2 linked regions of the Homo sapiens genome follow. The protein of the gene in region 2 purifies or fractionates together with the protein of the main gene of each other region. This does not show direct contact. Each region holds a gene or a part of one and is shown on either strand. Other genes may lie near its edges.

Evidence for each region.
Region 1: the proteins of NECAP1 (region 2) and CACTIN purify together in Homo sapiens (affinity purification with mass spectrometry; one large-scale study listed by BioGRID and IntAct). This does not show direct contact.

What each region holds. Positions count from the first base shown.
Region 1 is NC_000019.10:3,616,700-3,620,350, forward strand, and holds part of CACTIN (splicing factor Cactin), read right to left. Parts: intron 3,574-3,651; coding exon 3,428-3,573; intron 2,544-3,427; coding exon 2,381-2,543; intron 2,291-2,380; coding exon 2,176-2,290; intron 1,217-2,175; coding exon of another isoform or gene 1,131-1,216; exon of another isoform or gene 1-1,130. UniProt on the Homo sapiens protein: Plays a role in pre-mRNA splicing by facilitating excision of a subset of introns. Required for the splicing of CDCA5/Sororin, a regulator of sister chromatid cohesion. Involved in the regulation of innate immune response.
Region 2 is NC_000012.12:8,095,177-8,098,381, reverse strand, and holds the end of NECAP1 (adaptin ear-binding coat-associated protein 1), read right to left. Parts: intron 2,782-3,205; coding exon 2,679-2,781; intron 2,341-2,678; coding exon 2,292-2,340; 3' UTR 501-2,291; downstream 1-500. UniProt on the Homo sapiens protein: Involved in endocytosis.

The DNA of each region.
Region 1 (3,651 bases), on a different chromosome or scaffold from region 2:
AAAAAGAAAAAGCATGCAGTCACTCATGCCTTTAATCCTAGCCCTTCTGGAGGTGAGGCAGGAGGATTGCTTGAGGCCAGGAGTTCAAGACTAGCCTGGGCAACACAGTGAGACCCCATCTCTACAAAAAATTTTCAGAAGTGGCTGGGCACAGTGGCTCACTTCTGTAATCCCAGCACTTTGGGAGGCTGAGGTGGGAGGATCATGAGGTCAAGAGATTGAGACCATCCTGGCCAACATGGTGAAACCCTGTCTCCTTAAAAATACAAAAATTAGCTGGGCGTGATGGCGCGCGTCTGTAATCCCAGCTACTTGGGCAGCTGAGGCAGGAGAATCGCTTGAATCTGGGAGGCAGAGGTCACAGTGAGCAGAGATCGCACCACTGCACTCCAGCCTGGTGACAGAGTGAGACTCCTTCTCAAAAAATAAAATAGCTGGGTGTGATGGTGAGCGCCTGTAGTCCCAGCTTCTAGGGAGGCTGAGGTGGGAGGATCACCTGAACCCAGGAAGTCGAGGCTACAGTGAGCCTTGATCGCGCCACTCAACTCTCGCCTGGGCGACAGAGCGAGACCTTGTCTCTGAAAAATGAAAAGTAAAAGGAAAACCCCAATTAATTTAAGAAGATCCAGGACAGGGGCTCTGTGGGTCTCCAGGGGGACAGCAAAGTCAAGACCCCTCGGTTCCCTACTCCTGGAAACCATGTTGAAAGGAGAATCAGAAACAAACTCCCTCGGAAGACACCAAAGCCACCTGGGGTCCCCAACTGTAACGCGTGAGGGGAAAGGAGGGCTGAGCGACGTGGTGGAGGCAGAAGGCCATGGAAGGGATGGGAGAGGCCGGGGCCTAGGGCAGTGGGGCACGCTGGAAACGCCTCCCAGGCTTATAGGAGAGGCCGGGCCCAGGGCAACGCTGGAAACGCCTCCCAGTCTTACAGGAGAGGGCGGGGCCTAGGGCAACGCTGGAAACGCCTCCCAGGCTTCCTGCAGCCGGTGGGTAGGGTCTGCGGCTTCTGAAGGAAAATGTACTGCACCCAGAAGTCTTTGCCCAGCCCCGCTGCCACCAGCAGGAGCACACCAAGACCCTTAACGGACACACCTCTGATGCTGGAGAACTGCCCTGCCTCTCTGAGGTTACGGGAGAATGTGCCCCACGGAGGAGACCACTGGAGGGACAGGATGGCTGAGTGAACTCCACCTCCGGGGAACACAAAGCTCCACTGAAAAAGAGGAAAGCCACAGGCTCTTTCCTAGGAAGGACCTGCCACAGACCACGCTGAGGGCTGCAAATGACACTGACCCAGCCTCCTGGGATCCTCGGCCACCATGATGGCACCCAAGGCCTGAGAGGGAGGGCAGGGGAAGGACCGGGTCTATCGACAGGGATGCGTGGCCCATGAGAGCCAGGCACTGTTACAGCAGCCGCTGGGGCGTGGATTTTGGCGGGGAGGGGGCAGGGCTGCTGTGGTTGGCTTTTAGACCGGGGGGGGGGGGGGTCTCATCTAGGGCAATTCTGCCCCCAGGGGACTCTGGGCAACGTCTGGGGACATCTGCGGTTGTCAGGACTAGGGGTGCTCCTGACCCTGGGTGGAGGCCAGGGACGTTGCTCAGCACCCAGCAGTGTCCAGGACGGCCCCACCCTAGGGAACGGCCCAGCCCGCATGTCCGCAGTGCTCAGGGTAGACGCTTTAGAGCATCCCCGGTGACCATGTGTGTGCAACCACACGGAGGGGGGGGAAACGTGATTTTAAAAGCCCATCAGGTTGGAGGGGCACGAACTGACGCACGGGACAGGTAGCGCCCTGAAGCTGGGCTGCACGGCCTTCAGGCCAGGTGGAGCGAGACTTGCTGTCAAACAGGCAGAGCCACTGAGAGCACTGAAACCTGAGCGGAAAGCCCCGTGGCTCCCATAAGGCCGGCACCGCCGAGTCAGCGTTAACGGGACGCTGGGTCTGGACGCTGCTGGCCCTGCACCCCAGACAGAGGCCCGCCCCACTCATCCCTCCCAGGGCCTACTGCCCGCTGCTGCCCCCTGGTGGCTCGGCCCAGAAGGGGAGGCCCCAGTTGGGGAAACCGAGGCCTGCAGAGAGCACCAGGCCCCACAGCAAGTCTGAGGCTTCTGGGTGAACACTGTAGCCCCCGCAGCTCCCCTGGAGCCCAGGCCCATGCCCGCCGTTACCTGGCCCCTTGCCCGAGGCCTCCAGCTTGCGGAGCTTGGAGATCTCGTCCTCGGTGATGGTGGTCATGTCCCGCCAGAAGTCGGCGTTCTTGCCCTGCTCCAGCTCCATGTAGACCTGGGGGCAGGGGGCAGGGGTCAGGACACGGGTGTGGCTGGGGTGGGGGTGAGGGTGCAGGTCAGAGGAGCATCGGGTGGGGCTGGGTACCTGGATATCCTCCAGCAGGTCCTCCATGTCGGCCACGGTGAGGCCGTTGAGGAACGTGTAGGGCTCATGCATCTCCACGGCCAGATCGTCATCCTCAGCGCTGATGTACTTGGCCAGCAGGTCGATGGGCTTGGCCCGCCCGTCCCGGATGCGGATCTTGGAACTGTGGGGAGCAGGGGAAGGTGGCATCAGAGCCTGGGCTGTGCCCTCCATGCTAAAGACCCTGCCCTTGGGGTGACCACACCAGTGGGAGCCGAGGAGGGGCCTGACCCGTTGGGGGTGGTCAGGGAAGGCTTCCTGGAGGAGGAGGAGGAGGAGGCATAAGGTAGAGTGAGCCGGGTCAGCCAAAGGGCGCAGGCCAGCAGTGCAGACAAAGTGCAAGCAGCGTGGACCCGGAGGTGGGCCAGGTGGGAGGGGCTTCCTGGAGGGCCTCTGGGATGTGCCCAGGATGGCGGCTTCTATGTGGGCTGTGATGGGGAAGAGTGGAGGAGCTGAAGCAGAGGCAGGCTGGGGGACCAGAGTAGTCACTGCCTTGCAACCACCTCCTCCCCCAGGCAGACCACTCGGGGCAGAGAGCCGGGTTTCTGTTCTGGGCCTGCAGGGGGGTACGCGTTGCAGGCGGGCCCTGGTCCAACCCAAGGGAACCCGTCACCAGGGAGGCCCGAGCTGGGAGGAGCCTGATGTCACCCGCCACGGGGCCCAAGGCAAGCAGGGACACCCCGGAGCCTCAGCTTGTCTGTAAACCAGGCGGATGGGGGTGCCACCCTCCTGGGTGGAGTGTGGGAGGGACAACTGCAGTCAGTGCAGGACTGGCGTCCAGCATGCGTGGGGTGCCGTTCACCTGGGCCCGTCTCCTCTGCACCCTGCCCAGCAGGGGAGGGCAGGAGACAGAAGCCTTGCCGCCCGGGAAGGGGTCAGGAAGGGAAGGTCCCAGGAAGTGCCGTGTGGGACCCTGAAGGGTGGGAGAGCAGTGGCTTCCAGAGTGACAGCCAGTGCCCGGCCCTGGCTCCAAGTCTGGGTCGGAGGGAGGGGGAGGCCCCAGCGCACCGCAGCTTGGCCTGCTGGAGGTGGAAGTTGTCCTCCTGCTCCTCCCATGTCTTGAAGTGCTCTGCCTCCTTCTCGCGCTGCAGCATCTCCAGCTCCTGCTCGCGCATGGCCTTCTCCCGCTCCCGCTCCAGCCGCAGCTGCTTCACCTGCAGGCACAGGAGGCTGAGGGCAGCGGGGACCGTGCGGTCTGCAGGGCTGCGGGGGGAGGGGCTGTGATGATGGGG
Region 2 (3,205 bases):
CGTCCTCCCAGGCTCAAGTGACCCTCCCACCTCGGCCTCCCAAGTAGCTAGGACTACAGGCACATGCTGCCATGCCCAGCTAATTTTTAGATTTTTTGTAGAGATAAGATCTCGCTATACTGCCCAGGCTGGTCTTGAACTGGCTTCAACCAATCTTCCCACCTTAGCCTCTCAAAGTGCTGGAATTACAGGAGTAAACCACCAACCACATCTAGCTAATTTATCTCCTGTGGCAATCACTGAACAAGAACTCCCAAGACCTTTTCTGGTTTCCAAAGTCTGTGGTTCTGACCTTAGTTATTTCTCTTATACTGATCCCTTTCATTTCTGCTGATTACAGTTAAGATATAAGAGGTGGCCTAGATCATGAAGATAATTTGAAGCAAATTAAATTAACTGTACCAGAAAATAAATAATGAATATTCATTGATTACACAGAGTGCTCTGTCATTTTAGAACCATGAACACAGAGGTCTAGTCTCAACTTCTTAAAAGCCTTATTTCTTAATAAAGAGTGATATAAATATCCTTTATTAACTACTGGTCCACTTATATTTGGTCAATTAAATTTAAAAGGTAATCAAATAAGCAAATTAAAAGATAAAAGAGACACTTTTTTCATATTTTTAATTACCATTATTGCACCAATACAGCATACACTTTATATACATATATCTTAAACATTTTCCATTTTTCAGGAATTCAAATACATAATATATTATCATCTCAAGAATACAAAGAACACAACATGGAGGAAGATTGAGAAAATAGGTTCCCAGTATTTAGTCACTAGTGATTCCACAGACTTTCCTTTTAGTGTTTTCTATTGGAATTTTAACATGTCCTGCTATGGCTCTGCAAGAATAGAGCTGCCTGGAAAAGGAGGCAATGAAAAGAAAATGGACCCAAAGTCAGAAAAAGTGAAGAAGAGAATCCAGGAAAGTAATATATTTTGAAACTAAACATAAGGACTCCCTTCGGCCAGAGTGTACATACCCAATAGGTGCAAAAAGGAAGCAATGATATCTTCCCATTTCATCCTCAAAATTGCTCGTTTAGAAACAAAATAGAAAGTACCCATTCACCTAAGAAGCAGAACTTTTTTCACAGCATTGTAATAGGAATGGCAGGGCAGAGGGAAAGGAAAGTAGTGGGAGAACAACTTGCTTTTAAGATACCCTGGGTGACAGGTATCAAAGCCTTGGGCAAAACCTGTCACAGTAAAGCTGTGACTCTCCAACTTCCTTCACAAATGACAATATACATAATAGCAGCTTTCTATTAAAGAACTACATGAACTGAAAAGAAATGTTTATGGAAAGGGGCCAGATACCCAGGCAGCAAGGCAATGAGGATACTAAACAAGAGTTAAGTGCTTTCAACCTCTCTGCTCTACAGATCAGGTTAAAAACTCTAAACCCTTCAACTTTAGGTCAAAGAACAGGGCAAATACAAATTAATGCCATGCTTCAAATGCAGCAACCAGATGGAGCTGCAAGAAATTAAACACTCCTATAGACTATCACTTGGAAAGCACAGCCTCTTGAACCTCCTTCATTACAGATACACCCACTGATCAAAGATGTTAACACAATTCAAACTCAACAAACAGAAAAGAGTAGTGGAGGTGCCACCAACACAACCCTCTTATCATAGAAAGAGACATGTAAACACACAAGAGGGTGATGGAGCTGCACCCAGCACTGGATGTTCACTGAGCACAATAAGCCTGAAGGAGACTACACAGCAGAGACCCAGGAAATAGGTCTTTCTCCATATCTACCCCTATCAAAATTCTGAATTTGTAAACACTGAGGTCAGCCTGTCCATTTTTAGTCCTGGGTTAGTGGAGAAGGAAGTTGCAAGGTTTTTGACTCCCCTGAAATTGCTAAATAGGGCTTCACAAAGAGGCACACAAGGGTCATGAGATGATTTTGAAATAAGTTAAAGAAATTAAAAGATGAGACAAATTTTACAGATGTTAGAGGTCATTCCCCCTCAAACAGACGCTGGCCTTTTAAGCCCTGCATAGTCAGCCAAAACTATGATAAGATCCACTAGTCCCCTACCTTGGTACTACGCAGGAGATAACAGATACTTTCTTGGCTGTACAAGTAACAACACAGGGGAGTGACATAAACCAGCTTGAATGTGATGGAGAAGCTATGAAAAAGATTGTCCAGTCATTCTGGTTCTGGGGAGGAAATGGGTTCCTAACTTCCCTCACAGATTGGTGCCCTCAAGGTCATTTTTATTCCTCAAGTCTGTCCTTAATGTCCTGCCAATGCCATTCAGAACTGGACCCAGTTGGATGGCTGTGGTGCCTGGTTTGGAACAGAGCTGCAAGACAGGAGAACAGAGAAAGCCAGAGACATAATATTAGGATAACAACTCCATTCTTTACTTAATAGTTTCTAAGAAATCACTGCCTAGAATTTCCAAAACCACACTTCATGGCAATTCTACTTACAAAGGCCTGAAATATCCCACTCAAACCTCATCCTACAGCTTTTTTGTCCCCCCATTCCCAGCACTACTATATTTCCTTCACTAGAACTCTTCCAAAAGACTCTATGTGACCTGCATATCCATTGCTTCTCCAGATCAAAGATTTCAATTGACTGTACATATCTCCTACACCCTGATTGAGAGTATGCTAGTTTCACTATGCCCATTACCTGGAGGCAGTGCTGAAGTCTCCCCACAAGTCATTGCTTACAGAAACTGGAGTTGGTGCTGGTGTCGTGACAGGAGCAGGAGAATCCAAATCTAAAAGGATATCTAAACACAAGGTAAGAAAAGAAAAAAGAAAAACATAATCAAAATCTTGGAAGGGCCGGGCGCGGTGGCTCACGCCTGTAATCCCAGCACTTTGGGAGGCCGAGGCGGGTGGATCATGAGGTCAGGAGATCGAGACCATCCTGGCTAACAAGGTGAAACCCCGTCTCTACTAAAAATACAAAAAATTAGCCGGGCGCGGTGGCGGGCGCCTGTAGTCCCAGCTACTCGGGAGGCTGAGGCAGGAGAATGGCGTGAACCCGGGAAGCGGAGCTTGCAGTGAGCCGAGATTGCGCCACTGCAGTCCGCAGTCCGGCCTGGGCGACAGAGCGAGACTCCGTCTCAAAAAAAAAAAAAAAAAAAAAAAATCTTGGAGATGAGAATTTATGTTTGCACAAAAATCTGTATACAAATGCCACGGCAGCTT